Homo sapiens: one gene and its partners. The protein of the gene in region 4 purifies or fractionates together with the protein of the main gene of each other region. This does not show direct contact. Each region holds a gene or a part of one and is shown on either strand. Other genes may lie near its edges.

Region 1 (2,728 bases), on a different chromosome or scaffold from region 4:
GTGTGTCTCACATCTCCACTCAGGAGAGACGGCCCCTGGAAGCATGATGTGGGGGAAACAAGCTGGGTCATTTCCTACAAGGTGGGCTGTAACCAGATGGCTTCTCAGCCCCACCCAACTCTGCGCTGCAGTATGAGGGGACCAGTTTGCGCGGAGCGCTGGTGGGCAGGGGCGAAAGGTGGGGGGTGGCAAGCCCATCTTACCTTACTGCCAGGACTCTCCTCTCCTCAAGAGGGCCCAAAGGGCCCTGAGTGCTGCCCTCCCAAGAGAGCCGACTTAGAATGACCTCCAGAAGGCACTGTGACCTTGGTAGTGTCTTCCCTTCACAGAGTCCCAAAGGGCCCAACTAACTCCCAGACAAGGTGCCACTGGCAGCTGGCCATTCTGAGGCCTCTTACTAGCTGCAGGAGGGGAGTGACTGACGCAGGCCCTGTGTCCACACCCCACTCCAGCCTGTTCCTTCACTGGCATGTGGTCAGATTGAAAATCCAATACAATAGCCCCGATTCTCTGAAAGGCCCCTTCCCCAGGAGAAGCAGATGGAAATTACAGCTGGGAAATCACATCCGAGGTGTCTCCCCCTCCTGCGGAGCCATAGCCAGAGATGAACTTCAAGGTCCTTTGAGTGGGTCTCCCAGCATGGGCCCTGGAGCAGCAGCATCAGCATAGACCTGGGCACTCGTTAGAAATTCTAATTCTTAGGCCCCACCCAGGCCTGCTGAATTAGAAATGTGGGTAGGACCCAGAAATCTGTGTGTTAACAAACCCTCTGGGTGATCCGCGTTTGAGAACCCCTGGTCTGGGCAAGCCCTTCATGTCATAGAGGAAGAAACAAAGAAAGAAAGCCAGAGAGGAGAATGGACATGGCCAAGGCCACGCAGCAAAATGACGGGGCTAGGACCCTGCTGGGTCTGCAGATGGCAGTTCAGGGAGGACACCAAGGAACACCCTCATTGGCCCATTCTACCTGCTAGCTCTCCCTCCCTGAGCTGTTCTTGAAGATGCTACGCCCTCCTCCAGCACCGAGCCCAGGGTGTTTGCTCAAGTTTCCTCGTGGGGGATCAGACAGCTTGGAACCGGGGCTGGAGAGGGAAGCCCTGAGCCCTCAGCAAACATCAGCGCCAAGGGCGGTTGGATCCCTGCCACTTGGGTCTCAAGCAAATGTCCTGCGGCCATCAGAGAAATTCTTCCTGGACCAAGGGATGCCTGAGGCCCTTTCCTTGGACAACTCTGACTCCAGTGCCCCGGGGCAAGCTTTATTTCCTGCTCCAAGAACACGATTCTTCACACAAAAGTCAGCAATCAGCGGTTTCACAAGACTTCCCTCCCCTCCCCCCACCCACAGACAGACACACAGAACAGATCCAGCACATGCTCTGCGGCCCGGCCCCGCCCCACCCGTGCCCGCTGCTGAGAGGGCGGCGCCATCCAGATCCGGGAGAACCCCGGTCTGACAGGTGAGGCTGACTGTTGAGGGACCCCTCTCCGGGACATGGATGCTCCCAGAGGAGCCAGCAGGGGTTGGGGTGGAAGAGGGACACACAGCACGCGGATGGGCTGTGGCCTTAGTGTGGGAGGACCACAATCGTCCTGTCTTAGCTTAAGGATGGGTGTGCCATCAGCAATGGGTGGTACAGGGGGAGTACTGGCAGAAGAGGGAATTTTGGAAAGGGGTGGCCTGGCTGGAGACAGATGGTCAATCTGTCAAGACATCAAAGACCCCAGGGTTGCCACTTCAGCCTCATGCCATGCTCAGCACACGACAAGGGGCTGAGGGCGCCCACTAGGCAGGGCTGGAGAGCTCCTCTGGCCCCACCCCACCCTGCTGACTGGCTCCTAGGAAGCCCTCTCAGCCATCCATCCTAAGTTGACAGGCTGTCCACACTGATGAAATCTCCCCCTCCCTGTTGCTATCTTTCCTCAGGATGGCAAGAACCAAGGGCTTAGCTTCCTCCCATGACTTGATCTGGGGCCACACTGATCGGCCTGCCCACAGGCCTCGGGGACCCAGCATCTCTCTGTGGCTCCGTGGCAAAGCCCTGTGAGGCTGCACAGAGAGCCCACTCCTCCTCCAGTGCTCCTGTGATCTAGTCACTCCACAGCTTCAGGTTGGGACCAGCACTTGGGACCCTTTCTCTGCCACTTGAGACTTGGCCCTGGCCCCACTTGGCATCTCCTCGTCTCCACCCCCCTCCCTGCCTGAGGCCCAACCCCTTCCCTGCCCGGTGTCCAGATGGTCTCCTGCATGGGCAGGCCTGTCCTTCCAGCCCTGGCCTGGCCTCTGTGGCCTGCCCCGGGTCACCCAGATGGGTAGTAGGGGGTATCACTATGGTAGTTGTAATCTGGGCACACCTTCTGGACCAGCCGATAGTCCGTGCTGTAGAAGGCGATGTAGACACAGACGACTTTGAAGGGCTGGGAGCAGCTCCAGGTGGCTGAGCTCTGAGCGTGGTCTCGGGAGCAGATCTTGGCTGGGTCGTGGGTGCAAAGCGAGGTCCGGCGGCCCCGTTCTACCTTCTCCCACTCCATCCGGCAGTTGAAGATTTTGGAGGCCTTGGCTTCGATGAAGATCTGCTGTTCCTGGTGGAACTCTACAGCTTTACTGGGGGGCACGAGGCTGATGGAGATGTTTCCCTGGCCTGTGGCATTGTGTTGGAAGTGGACGCTGAAGGTCCCATTGCCATGGTCCACAATCTTCCCTGTGACGAGCAGGTTCAGGGCCACCGTC
Region 2 (3,500 bases), on a different chromosome or scaffold from region 4:
ACACATCATCTTATTTCTCAAAACAACTGGAGCCGGTATTATTATCCCCATTTAACAGATGAGAAAAGTGAGGCTCAAAGAACCTCAGTAAATTAGTCCAGGTCACAAACTAGTAAGTGGCAGGGTTGAGACCCAAATTCAGGTCTATTCAACTCCAATCCCAGCATTCCTTCCACTATTGGCAACAGATTCGCACTATGATGTACAGTCGCCTGAACCACAACAAAATTCCTCTAAAGAACCAGAGTGGTACCCAGCCCACTTTTCCAAGTTTGGCATAAAGAACAGAGCCATGCATTGAATTGGGAGTAACAGCTGTTTGGCCAGGGACCACAGCAAAAAAGTGTTCATGCAGGGATATTTAACCAGCTCAGTGCCCAGAACAGAGTAGAAGCTTGAAGAATATTTGGGTTTTTGTTGTTGTTGTTCTTTGTTTGTTTGTTTTTTGAGATAGGGTATTACTCTGTTGCCCAGGCTGGAATGCATTGGTGCCATCATGGCTCATTGCAGCCTCAACTTCCTGGGCTTAAGTGATCCTCTCACTTCAACCTCTTGAGTAGCTGGGACCACAGGCATGCACCACTATGCTTGGCTGATTCTTTCTTTCTTCTTCTTCTTTTTTTTTTTTTTTTTTTTGGTAAAGATGGGGTTTCACTATATTTCCTAGGCTGGTCTCAAACCCCTGGCCTCAAGCAATTACCTGCCTCAGCCTCCCAAAGTGCTGAGATTACAGGCGTGAGCCATCACTCCCAGCCAAGAATATTTGTTGAGAAGTTGAGTAAATACAGGATTCAGGGTTGACATCGACATCTTCAGCAGGTTACAAAAGAAGGATCTGAGGCTCAGAGAGGCCAGATGACTTGCCCTAGGTCACACAGCAGAGAGAATTGGACAAAGAACCAAAGATGTCTAGACTTTCAGACAAGGATCTTCCTGTCACATCACCGTAACTCCTCTGGCCAGGAAAATTTTTCCTGTACCTTTAATTAAATGCAGTATACTTTGGGGTAAATGAATGCTAACCTCCAACTGAGAACATTTATTTTCCTAATGAGTTCATTAGCAAATGACTCTGCTGCTTCAGGATGCAGAGATAGCTTGGTTAATGCACGTTTCAGTTTTCATATTATGCTATGAGTCATTTTTGTTTATCTTAGAATTTCTTTCCTCATCTGTTGTGTGTGGTGGCCCTAGTCACCAGGGATAGGAGCTTTGTCACTCACTCAGGAAGTGATGGACTGACCCCCTGCGAGTGGATGAAGAAACTGCTCTCATAAGCGTGGTTATGCAGATCAAAGAGTGGGTCCTCTACACATGTTCCCAATTAACTGTGGCCATCCCATTCCATATCCCTTCTACTCGCCAGCATAGTTTCTGATCCTTTAATAGCCCAAACAACAAGAGGGAAGCCCAGCCCAGCCAAAACAAAAGCAGAAAACAGCCAAACGAAGATGAAAACATCCTAGTGATTAGTGAGAGAGCTCCAGATATCCCAGTATCTGGAGCCACCTCGGGATACTGGGATATTTGGAGCTTCTCACCGCAAGGGGTCACCTTATCTGCACCTGGTGTCACTTCCCACAAGGACCCCAGAGCTCGGTCTCTAGCACCAGACTCTGTGCTTTCATACACACTGCTGGCCATCTTCACAATACCTTCACCCAAATGTGGCCATCTTCAATTCAGCATGTTTTATTTGTCCAGCTGTGTAATTAATATCTATGCATTTAACTGTATGTAAATCTTACCTTAACAAAACATAAAAATTAAAAAAAAAGAAGTAAGTTTAAAATGACATTCACCTTTCCCCTCTACCAAAACTCCTCCTCCTGAGGTCTTTAGCTCACCTCAGGGTGTGCCTTGGCTCCCTAAGCCTCCGTACCCGATCAATCACCAAGACCTATTGATTCCACCCATTCCACTTCTCCTGAAGCTTTCCCCTTCTCTGCATTTTCCCATCATCACATTCTACTCAACCTATTGACACTGACCACCTACTATGGGCCAGGCACTGTGCTAGGCTGTAAGTCTACATTATGAACAACACACAAATAGTATCATGCAGGAGTTTGCATTTAGAACCCCAGGTGGAAACTACACCACAGGGGCACTGGTAATACAGCAGAAGTGACTCCCTCTACACAGGGGTGGGGGCTTGGTGGGCTGCACAGACCACAGAGGTCAGGGATGGCTCTGGAAAGTTCCTAGAGAGGCTGATCTCTGTGGAAAGATGAATAGGCATTTGCCAAATGGGCAAAGAGAAGAACTGCATTCCAGCCAATGAGAAGAGCTCAGACAGGAGCAGCTGGAGGGAGTACATAAGCCATTCTGGTTTGTTGGGGATGTGTTTGTTTCTCCAAGAATTTGGTCTAAAGGAGGGGAAAGTGGTAGGAGCTGGAACTGGAGCAGCAGGCAGGAACCAGATCACGGAAGGTTTTGTCAATCCTATTCAGGAGTTTGAATCTTAACCTGTGGGCAGAGGGAATGTCAGTAGGGTTCTAACTAAGGACCTAGTCAGTCTTACTCTTTAGAAAGATCGCTTTAGAAATAATGTCTCTTATGTGAACAACTGCAATTATTTTTCTTAATTCTCATCTCCCCTCCCTCCATACACCATTTCCAAAGTAGAAAACAAGATGATGTGTCTTCCCTAATTAAAAATCAAAACAAAATTAAAACCTCACCACAGCTTCCCATAGCAGACAGCAGCAATTCCAGACTCCAAGGAAAATTGTTCCTGGAGATGTTAAGTTTTGTTATGGGGGGCTGGGGAAGGGGGGAAATCATTTCCTTGCAAAAAAAAAAAAAAAGTTGGATTAACCTTTATACAAAATTAAGCAGGTTTTCTTTTCATTGCAGGACTTCTCAGAGCCTTCAGTTTTCTAAAATCAACTGTGACTCTTTAAAAAGGGGATTCAGCATTCAAATCCCCAACTTATTAAACAAGTGAGCTCCTTGATCTTGGAGCATTGATTAGCATCTTCATGGGCTAGTCTTCTGTGAAATGCTGACCTGCACAATATGAAGTCCAAACTCAACTAGGTGAATAGTCTTGTGAATAATCTAGCCTCAACTTTTATCCCTTCCTGACATACACACACACATCCTTGTATCCTCTGTTCCAACCACACTGGTCTTCTTACTGCCCTTCCCCTCTTTCTATGCTTGAGGAATTCTGGGTCATCCTTTAAGCCATAGCCAAATAGCAACTCCACTGTGAAAAAGTGGTCTGTAGTGAGGGTTGCAGAGATACAGGTTGGTCTGAATCAAGGCTACTGTCCATGAAACCCTCTATGCAGTACGTGGAAATTGTTTGGATGAATAACTCTGTAATCTGCGAATCTGTGAAGAGGGCTGGACTACATTTTACAAGGCAATTAAGGGTTCTTTGTGACTGGCAAAGAGGCTCTGGCCTCTGGAGACTGCACTGTCCTGTATTTAAAGAAACTTCAGTTTTTCCCAGCCTCTCTGCTGTAGATTACATGAAGAACAGAAGCATC
Region 3 (4,099 bases), on a different chromosome or scaffold from region 4:
AGTGAGATGGGAAAGGCCTAGAGAGCTGTAGGCCCTGGCCCAGACCAGGCCCTTAACCTGGTAGTATCTCTTCGGTGTCTTTTAGGTGTCCCTTGTGCTTAGGGGCAGGTTAAAGAATTCAGTAGATGAGAGGATTTCCTCCTTCCCTCCCTTCCTTCCATAGACATGTGGATTTGGTGTGTGCACTATTGGTTCAGTCTCTTCTCAGAAAGCCTGCTGGTTTTGGCCCCCACCAACAGATAGCTCCTCTTTTTCTCTTCTGGGCTACCCTGAAAAGAGCATGGGCTTCACAGTCAGCTTCATCTAATTTCAAATCCTAGCACCACCACTTAGTTAAATTACATACTTTCTCTCTAAGCTTGAGTCTCACGAGTAAGACAGGATAAGGTTTACTTCTTGGGGCTTGAAAAGTTTTACTGAGATAATGTTAGAAACTGCCTGGCTCATTGTAGATGCTTAATAAAATGTCAGGTTTTCTTTTATTACTCCCTTCTCCCCCAAACAAGACAAAAGCCCTGGTGTCTGAAAGTTACAAGGTGCAGGAAGTTTGGGGTTCCAGCCACCTCCCTCTGTGACTCTTGGTGACATTTTGAGCCCCTTATTCCTGGTCCTTATTCCTTGGCCCTCTACCCAACTCTCTCTACTCCGCTGCTCCTGGGTTTCAAGTTTCGTTTTTTTGTATAGCTTCTGTGGTCGATACTTCTAGCTCTTCACTTTCCCAGACTAAGAAATCCTTTCTCCTCCAAGAAGGGCTTTCTTACCCAGAGATCAGAATGTGAAACAAGGGAGAGATGGAGCTGAAGGAGTAGGGTTGGGTAGGGGCGTTGGAATAAAAAGCTCATTTCCCTTTCCAGGAGCGTGGAATGACTAACCTGGCACCATTCTAAGGGGAAAGAAAGGTTTAACGAAGTCACGGGATTGAAGGACCCTGATGGGCAGGGGCATGGTGGGTAGTGGTTTTGGAGGGAAAGGAGGAAGCAAATGGGGTGCGGGTAGGTGAGCTCCACCTTGGGATCCAGAGCAGGCGTCGGGGGAACTTAGGGGAGGGGGCGCGGGGATGGGTTTGTAAGAGGGCATGGGGTGGCTCACCTTAGAAGAAGGGAAATGAGAAGATGTGGGCGGTCCCGTAGCCCAGATTCCTGAAAGCTCCTAAAGGTCCCTGGAGTAGGGTACGCCCTCCTACGAGGCCCAGGGTCCGCGGGGAGGGAGGAGGCTGGGCTTGTGGGCGGGGCCCGCGGAGCCGCCCCGCCTCTACCTCCGCCTTCCCGCCGCGGTCCCGGGCTCTCCCCTCGCCTGGCTCCCCTCCCTTCTGCACTCGTGCGGGAGGGCGGAGCTGGGCCCGCTCCATTGTGGAGAGGAGGGGAGAGGCGCGCGGGAGCCGCGCGGAGGCCCGGCCACCAGCGCCCTAGCCTCTTGGCCGCCGCGGCTGCACCTGGCGAGCCCCGCAGCCGGGATGCGGCGGGCGCCCGGGGCTGGCGGGCAGCGCAGCGGCTCCGGGGACATGTGCGCTGGCCCAGACCGCCCGCGACCATGAGCCTGACCGCCCGCGTCTCCTGCTCCATGCTTAGCTGCTTCGTAAGTGCCCACCCTGCCTTTGGGGGCCTAGGAGGCACCCGCAGCCCCGCCCAGGGTCAGCCCTCGATTTCAGCCCATCCCCCTTCCCGAGGCCCCTGGCCCGGCCCCGAACGTTTGGGGGGCAGGGAAGGTGGGTTAACCCTTTTATTTCTTGGACTTGCTTCAATCTTTGGGTGCCGGAGATGGTCGAAGGCCAGGAATGGAAATTCTGTGGTCCATCCTGGCCCCGCAGCCACTGCCCTTGACTGCAGATCTCTAGGCCCCGCCCTGCAGGGGTACATCCCTTTACCTCCGCCTCTCCCTCTTGGTCCCACCCGCTGAATCCTTGCTTGGGGATGTGGGATGTGGCTAGTAGGCTGAATGGGATGTTAGGAGGTTGGTCGGGGAGCACGGGATGTCTTTGAGCTGGCTTGGGGCTCCAGTCCCTTCCCTCTTCCACCATTCCATCCCTCACCTGGCATGCCAGCCTTTTCTCCTTGACTGTCCCCCAGACAGCCTCTCTTCTCCATCTTCCCTGCCTCTGCAGGGTTCCGTACCTCTGCATCATTCCCGGTCCTCCCCTCCTCCCGCTCTGGCTGATGCTCCTTCCCAGCTTCCCCCATCTGTCCTCTCAGCTGTCCCCCCACCTTCCCCGTGGGTGTCTGCCGGGCCTCCTCTCTCTCTCTCCCCTGGCTGTCCTTGGGTCTCCTGGCTCCTCCCAGGCGCGTGGATCCCCCCGGGTCCCCTCCCTGGTGGTTGGGAGGGGAGTTCCTTTTGCTTGCTGTGGGTATTCCTCAGGAATTCCCCTCTGATTAGCAGGCAGAGCAGGTTACTTGGCAGGTAATGGGGGCTTGTCAGCAATGTGGGTCTAACAAGAAGATAAGCCCAGCTCTCAAACACGTCTTCCTTTTGAAAGCGTCGGTGAAGGCCCTCTAGAGGCGTGGGACTGAATCCCCCCACCCACTCCTCTTTGTCTCCTTCACCCACCAGATTGAAGCTTCAGTGGCTTGTAGGCGCCTGATTTCCCTTCTCTCTGAAACCAGCTGCCATACCTGGCTCCTTTTCCTCAGGACAGCACTTTCCCATCCCCACTCCTGCCTTACCCTTATGCGGGTCTAAGGGAAAGAGTCTTTCTTTTCCTTAGTTTTCTCTCCTCCATTTTTGAAATGTTGGTTCTATAGGAGAGTCCCTCTTTGAAGAGTGCAGATTCCCAATTCCTCCTGGGGCCTCACTCTTTCCTTAGGCTTAATAGGCTGATATGCTCTCCATTTCACCCTTCCCTGTCTCCAACCAAGTCAGATCTCTTTTCCCTTCTCTGGTGACCAGAACCTTTAGAGGTGTGTGTGTGTGGGTATCTGTGGATTTCTTGGTGGGGAGAGGAGCAGAATGAGCCTGATGGGCTAAGTGGAGCTTGGTGACTTAGGACTGTGGCCTTCCTACAGGGTGAGGAGGGGCCCCCCAGCCTGGAGTACATCCAAGCCAAGGATCTGTTCCCCCCCAAGGAACTAGTGAAGGAGGAAGAGAATCTTCAGGTAAGGAGGAGTTGGGGGCCAGGATAGATGGGGCTCCCTGCCCAGTTAAAAAACACCCTCCCTTCTCCCAAAAATCCTCAAGGGCATCTGGTACCAGAGCTCTGGCTTCATGTTCCCTGGTCTCTGGAGGAGGAGGGTTTGTCTGCGCATCCTGGAGCCTTTGGCCGCAGGGAAGGAAAGGCAGCTTTCCTGTACAGCTGTTGCCTGGTGCTGTTACCGTGGAGAGAACTCTCCTCTCTTGCCTTGGCCCACCTTTTCCAGAGGGGATCCCACAGATCAGGGGCTGTAGAAGAGGATAAGGTGGTCACTCACTTCTGGACTGAAGGTTTCTCTGCCCCTTGACAGGTCCCCTTCACAGTGCTGCAGGGTGAGGGAGTAGAGTTCCTGGGCCGGGCAGCCGATGCCCTCATTGCCATCTCTAACTACCGGCTGCATATCAAATTCAAGGACTCTGTCATCAACGTGAGTTTCTGTATTGTTCTCCTACCCCTAAGCTAGAATCCCTATGAAGTTCAAGGTGGGATTGTTCCAAGGCTGTCCTTGATCATGTCATTAAAAAAGTTGGAGGCCGGGCGCAGTGGCTCACGCCTGTAATCCCAGCACTTTGGGAGGCCGAGGCGGGTGGATCACTTGAGGTCAGGAGTTCGAGACCAGCCTGGCCAACATGGTGAAACTGTGTCTCTACTAACAATACAAAAATTAGTCGGGCTTGGTGGTGCGCACCTGTAATCCCACCTACTCGGGGGCTGAGGTACGGGAATCACTTGAACCTGGGAGGTGGAGGTTGCAGTGAGCCGAGATTGTGCCACTGCTGTCCAGCTTGGGTGACAGGGTGAGACTACCTCTCAAAAAAATAAAAAAAAAAAAGTTGGGGATCCCTTCTGTTTCTCTCTGACCTCATGTTTTCCTGCCTCATTTTCCTAGCTCTGTTTCTGGCTCATTCTCCTTTCTCCTCTTCTCTCTTTCCATTATTCTATTACTGGCCCTTCTAAGGAGCACAGTGGCATTGTTGG
Region 4 (5,158 bases):
AGGCGTGGTGGCAGGCTCCTATAGTCCCGGCTGCTCAGGAGGCTGAGGCAGAATGGTGTGAACCCGGGAGGCGGAGCTTGCAGTGAGGCAAGATTGCACCACTGCACTCCAGCCTGGGCAACAGAGCGAGACTCTTGTCTCAAAAAAAAAAAAAAAAAAAAAAAAATACATGTTTCTCACTGCACTTCCTACCACAGTTAAATATTTCGTCATACCATCCAGAGAAAACAAAAAAATCAGGCCAGGTGCAGTGGCTCACACCTGTAATCCTGGCACTTTGGGAGGCCAAGGTGGGCAGATCACTCAAGGTCAGGAGTTCAAGACCAGCCTGGCCAACATGGTGAAACCCCGTCTCTACTAAAAATACAACAATTAGCCAGGCGAGGTGGTATGTGCCTATAATTCCAACTACACGGGAGGCTGAAGCATGTGAATCACTTGAGCCTGGATGGCGGCAGTTACAGTGAGCCAAGATCACCACCTTGCACTCCATCCAGCCTGGGTGACGGAGTGACACTGTCTCAGAAAATAAAAAAAATAAAAAATCAAATTCAGAAAAGCCCCTGAAACTGTCAGATAGCACAAACCAATTCAAATAAGGTTTCGTTTTTTGTTTTTTGTTTTTTTAAGACGGAGTCTTGCTCTGTCACCCAGGCTGGAGTGCAGTGGCGCGACCTCGGCTCACTGCAACCTCCGCCTCCTGGATTCAAGCGATTCTCCTGCCTCAGCCTCCCAAGTAGCTGGGATTACAGGTGCGTGACACCAGATGGCTAACTTTTGTATTTTTAGCAGAGACGGCGTTTCGCCATGTTGGTCAGTCTGGTCTCGAACTCCTGACCTCGTGATCCACCCGCCTCGGCCTCCCAAAGTGCTGGGATTACAGGCGTGAGCCACCGCGCCTGGCTTTCACATAAGGTTTTAACTGCCCCTAGAAACTAACCAATACTACCTGGCGCACTCATTAAGCCCTGGGTTGACAGGCTTATGAGTGCGTGAGAGGTGAGAGGCTGTGCTCTATGAACGCTGCCAGGCTCTCCATAACCATTCTCTGGTGGGCCAGCTCCTTGGCACGGAATTTGCCCTAAGTTCATGCAGTGGCAACCCAGCAGACGACTGGGGGCAGCTGATGATCCCTATGTTAATCATATACCCTGACAGGGTCCTCCCGCGAAGCAGCAGTAATCCCACAGTTGCCATTGTCCTAAATGACATAACAGGGCCGTCTCTAGCTACAAAGATGGTTTCCATCTGACAACCATCAGAGCCCAGGATGTGCGGTGAAAGCCATGAGGAGCAACATGAGGGACGACAACCAGGTCAAAGGATTCAGCAGATGCAGGGCTCCTGACATGAACCCACAGCCCGAAACATCTCCCGGAGAAACCTGGCTTGGCAAAAGGAAGGCTGTAGTTACCTTTCAGACTGGGGAAGGGCGTGGCCTTCTCTCGGGCACCTTTGGTGGGCAGTGTGAGGTTTGAAAGACTGAAGCTGGTACTGTGGTTCCGATAGAGGCTGCCTATCAAGGGGAGGGTGCAAGAGCGATGACTTGGCAGAGTAAGTAATCAAAGCAGTAGACTAATGACTATCAGCATCTGCACCTCCCTCCTTTTCAAACACAATCCCAGTTTGGTGGATCAGATCATCTCTGATCTGTCTTAGAAAGGATCAAGTCTAACTCCAGGCAAACAATGGAGCCACTGCCAGGATCAGCCAAAACCCAGTAACAGCTTTCTCTGTCCACCTCACATGATAATATCCAAGTCTCTCATCCACTGCTACACAGCATGAAAGCTGGCAGTTAACAGGCTTCTGGTCTGAAGCTGGCACTGTCCCTCCCTGGCTGCTGAAGAAACTCACAATCACAGGGATCCTCTACGTTCGCTCTCTCTAGTCCATGGTCTGTCTTCAATCTTTAGCTGATACGACCCTGCACTGCTGGGAATACTATCTAAGCACAAAATTCAATCTCATATCGATTTCAAAGCACATTCATGGAAGAGTCCGTTATGAGGCAAAGAAGATACCAGATATGGACTCAAATCAAATTTGACCAGAGTATTTCCACAAAATATAAGTACAAGTGTGTGATTTTGAATTTACTGCCTGTTTTCCAGTTACCCATCCAGCTGTCTTACCTGAAATAGACTGAAATGTCCAGGCATAATGACTAATCTGTCCCTGTCCTTTACTGACCTCACTTGAAAACGCCTTATTCAGTATCACCCAAATGACTGGATTAGGGCTTGCTAATGCCAACCTAGCCCTACATGTGAAGTTCTAAGCAACATTTGCCATAGTCAGGCTCTGCTGTAGAGAAAATGGAACACAGGAGTGAGAGAGACAGCTGAAGGCACTTACTGGCAAAAGACATGATGCCCCCGAAGCCCTCGGTGCTGGTGTTGGAGACGGTGGAGTTGGGAGAGCTTGCCCGAGAGTCTGACTCTGCATCTGAGTCACTTGCCAGTCTCAAGCTGTTGGGCCGCAGCAGCTTTTGAGCCCTTGAATGCACAGAGGCACCTATGATCCCCAGGCAGGGGTACCTGATCTTGGGAGTATGGGCCATAATTATGCTATACTACAGTTGCCACTCCCTTCCCGTAATTCCTAAGCCCCTGGATCAGAACACCATCCTCTGGGGATGGCAGGACCACGAGAGCATTCAGACTTCTCAGACTTTCTGATTAACCCTTGCCCAGGGTCCACTGAGGTGAGGTCCTTCAGTCACCCATCTAGAAGGGATGCCCAGGCTCTCACCGATTGCCACTGACATGTTGGCTGAATCGGGGAGTGTAACTTTCCCCCTGCTCATCCTCATCTTCCTCAGGGGGAAAGCCATATTGGGGCTCGAAGTATGGATTGTCATAGATTCGCCGGCGCACTGACCCCTCTCCAATTTCTGCCTGACGTCTGTCCACGTTCGATTTGCCAATGCTGGGAGGCACGGAAGGGAGGGGCTTGGAGACGCCTACTGCTGCCTTATCATCCATCTCCGTAGAGTCAGCAGGTTCCTAAAGGCCGCATGAAATTAAAAGTGGTTACCTGGTGCCCAATGGTACCTTCCTGTAATCCCAGTTTGGCAGGGCTGGACCAGGCCTGTCAGATTTCTAGCCTAAGGAATGTGTGGGAAATGATCTCTGTAGCACCCGTTCTCTGTCCCCACAAACTATATAAGGGGGATCATAGCTGTACCCTGAACAAAGCCTGATGACCTCCTTTTGGGGTCAAAAGTAGGTCTCTTAGGCTCTAAGCTCTAGGGCCCATGAAGAGGAAGATGAGAAAATTGTGTGAGAAGCAGCAAATGAATAGCTACAGCCTGGCTTTCCTAATAGATGAGGCCCACATCCCAGGCCATGGTTCTCACTCATCCACCGCTCCTCACTTACAGAGTTGGCTCCGTGGATGACAGTGCTGGGGCTGCTGCTGGCTGTGGTGCTAGAGCTGGAGCGCAGTGGGGGGTTTTCCTGAGAGTTCTCACTGTCTGGGCCAGGCTCTTCTGCTTCCTTCTGATTCTGCAGCTCGTCAATCTCCACCTCGCTGGCATCCCCCAGTGCTGCATGTGTCAGAGGGTCCACATCTGCCAAAATCCAAGGGAGGCAGGTACAGACCACTCCATCCTTGGGCCCCCAACCCCTGCCCAGGGCTGGCCAATCTCCCCAAGCACACTTACTGGGAGTATCACCATTAATGTCACATTTCATCATTTCACTGACAAAGTCACCAAGGGAGGAGTAAGAAGAGCTTGAATCGTCATAATCCATACTATCACTGCCACTGCAGAGTGAAGTGCATAAAAAACAAACAAAACAGAAAGGGGCAGGGAGAACACCTACAATCAGCACCAGGAAAAATAAAAGGGGGAGCACTCCGAACTCAAGGCCAGGGAACAAATCAAATAAAGAAGCCAAGAAAAACAGTCAACCAAAGCATAAAGACTGATATGGGGGCCGGGACAGTGGCCCATGCCTGTAATCCAAGCACTTTGGGACGCTAAGGCGGGTGGATCACCTGAGGTCTGGAGTTTGAGACCAGCCTGGCAAACATGGTGAAACACCATCTCTACTAAAAATACAAAAAGTAGCCGGGTGCAGTGGCTCGCGCCTGTAATCCTAGCACTTTGGGAGGCCGAGGCAGGCGAATTGCTTGAAGGCATGAGTTTGAAACCAGCCTGGCCAACATGGTGAAACCTTGTCTCTACTAAAAACACAAAAAATTAGCTGGGCGTGATGGCATGTGCCTGTAATCCCAGCTACTCGGGTGGCTGGGGCAAGAGAATCGCTTGAACCCGAGAGGCGGAGGTTGCAGTGAGCCCAGATCACGCCACTGCGCTCTAGCCTGGGCGACAGAGCAAGACTCCATCTCAAAAAATATATATATACAAAAATTAGCCAGGCAAGGTGGCAGCACCTGTAGTCCCAGCTACTTGGGAGGCGGAGGCAGGAGAATCACTTGAACCTGGGAGGGAGAACTTGCAGTGAGCTGAGACGGCACCACTGCACTCCAGACCGCGTGACAGAGCAGCAAGACTCTGTCACATACATACAAAAATAAATAAATAAGGCCGGGCGCGGTGGCTCACGCCTGTATTCTCAGCACTTTGGGAGGCCGAGGCGGGCAGATCACAAGGTCAGGAGATCGAGATCATCCTGGCTAACACGGTGAAACCCCATCTCTACTAAAAATACAAAAAATTAGCCGGGCGTGGTGGCGGGCGCCTGTAGTCCCAGCTACTCGGGAGGCTGAGGCAGGAGAATGGCATGAAGCCGGGAGGCGGAGCTGGCAGTGAGCCGAGATTGCGTCACTGCACTCCAGCCTGGGTGACAGAGCGAGACTCCGTCTCAAAAAAATAAATAAATAAAATAAAATAAAATTAAAAACACTGATATGGGAAGCCTATGAGACTTTGCCTTCTCTGTGCTAAAGAAGGGCTAGTGAGAGCCTCCTCACCTTTAAAACCTTTTTGCTGCCCTAAGGATGCTCACCTATCATCAGTAGGTTCGGAGTCAGAGTCCCGCTCTGGTGGTACACTCAGGGCCTCAGCCAGCTGGGAATTGCTGTCATAGACGCGATAGTGGATAGGCTGCAGCTGATGAGCATACCACTTTGGCTTGTCACCAATCAGGGCTGGATCAAACATATCTACCCCATGAGGGAAAAGAAC

Evidence for each region. The genes of interacting proteins can lie anywhere in the genome.
Region 1: the proteins of MADD (region 4) and NXPH3 purify together in Homo sapiens (co-immunoprecipitation; one large-scale study listed by IntAct). This does not show direct contact.
Region 2: the proteins of MADD (region 4) and TC2N purify together in Homo sapiens (affinity purification with mass spectrometry; one large-scale study listed by BioGRID and IntAct). This does not show direct contact.
Region 3: the proteins of MADD (region 4) and MTMR4 purify together in Homo sapiens (affinity purification with mass spectrometry; one large-scale study listed by BioGRID and IntAct). This does not show direct contact.

Annotation. Positions count from the first base shown.
Region 1 is NC_000017.11:49,578,871-49,581,598, reverse strand, and holds part of NXPH3 (neurexophilin-3 precursor), read right to left. Parts: coding exon 2,299-2,728; 3' UTR 1-2,298. UniProt on the Homo sapiens protein: May be signaling molecules that resemble neuropeptides. Ligand for alpha-neurexins.
Region 2 is NC_000014.9:91,857,537-91,861,036, forward strand, and holds part of TC2N (tandem C2 domains nuclear protein), read right to left. Parts: intron 1-3,500.
Region 3 is NC_000017.11:58,511,839-58,515,937, reverse strand, and holds the start of MTMR4 (phosphatidylinositol-3,5-bisphosphate 3-phosphatase MTMR4), read left to right. Parts: upstream 1-1,299; 5' UTR 1,300-1,530; coding exon 1,531-1,575; intron 1,576-2,996; coding exon 2,997-3,086; intron 3,087-3,431; coding exon 3,432-3,548; intron 3,549-4,099. UniProt on the Homo sapiens protein: Lipid phosphatase that specifically dephosphorylates the D-3 position of phosphatidylinositol 3-phosphate and phosphatidylinositol 3,5-bisphosphate, generating phosphatidylinositol and phosphatidylinositol 5-phosphate.
Region 4 is NC_000011.10:47,282,791-47,287,948, reverse strand, and holds part of MADD (MAP kinase-activating death domain protein), read right to left. Parts: intron 5,137-5,158; coding exon 4,980-5,136; intron 3,772-4,979; coding exon 3,668-3,771; intron 3,575-3,667; coding exon 3,384-3,574; intron 3,009-3,383; coding exon 2,755-3,008; intron 2,499-2,754; coding exon 2,359-2,498; intron 1,517-2,358; coding exon 1,415-1,516; intron 1-1,414. UniProt on the Homo sapiens protein: Guanyl-nucleotide exchange factor that regulates small GTPases of the Rab family. Converts GDP-bound inactive form of RAB27A and RAB27B to the GTP-bound active forms.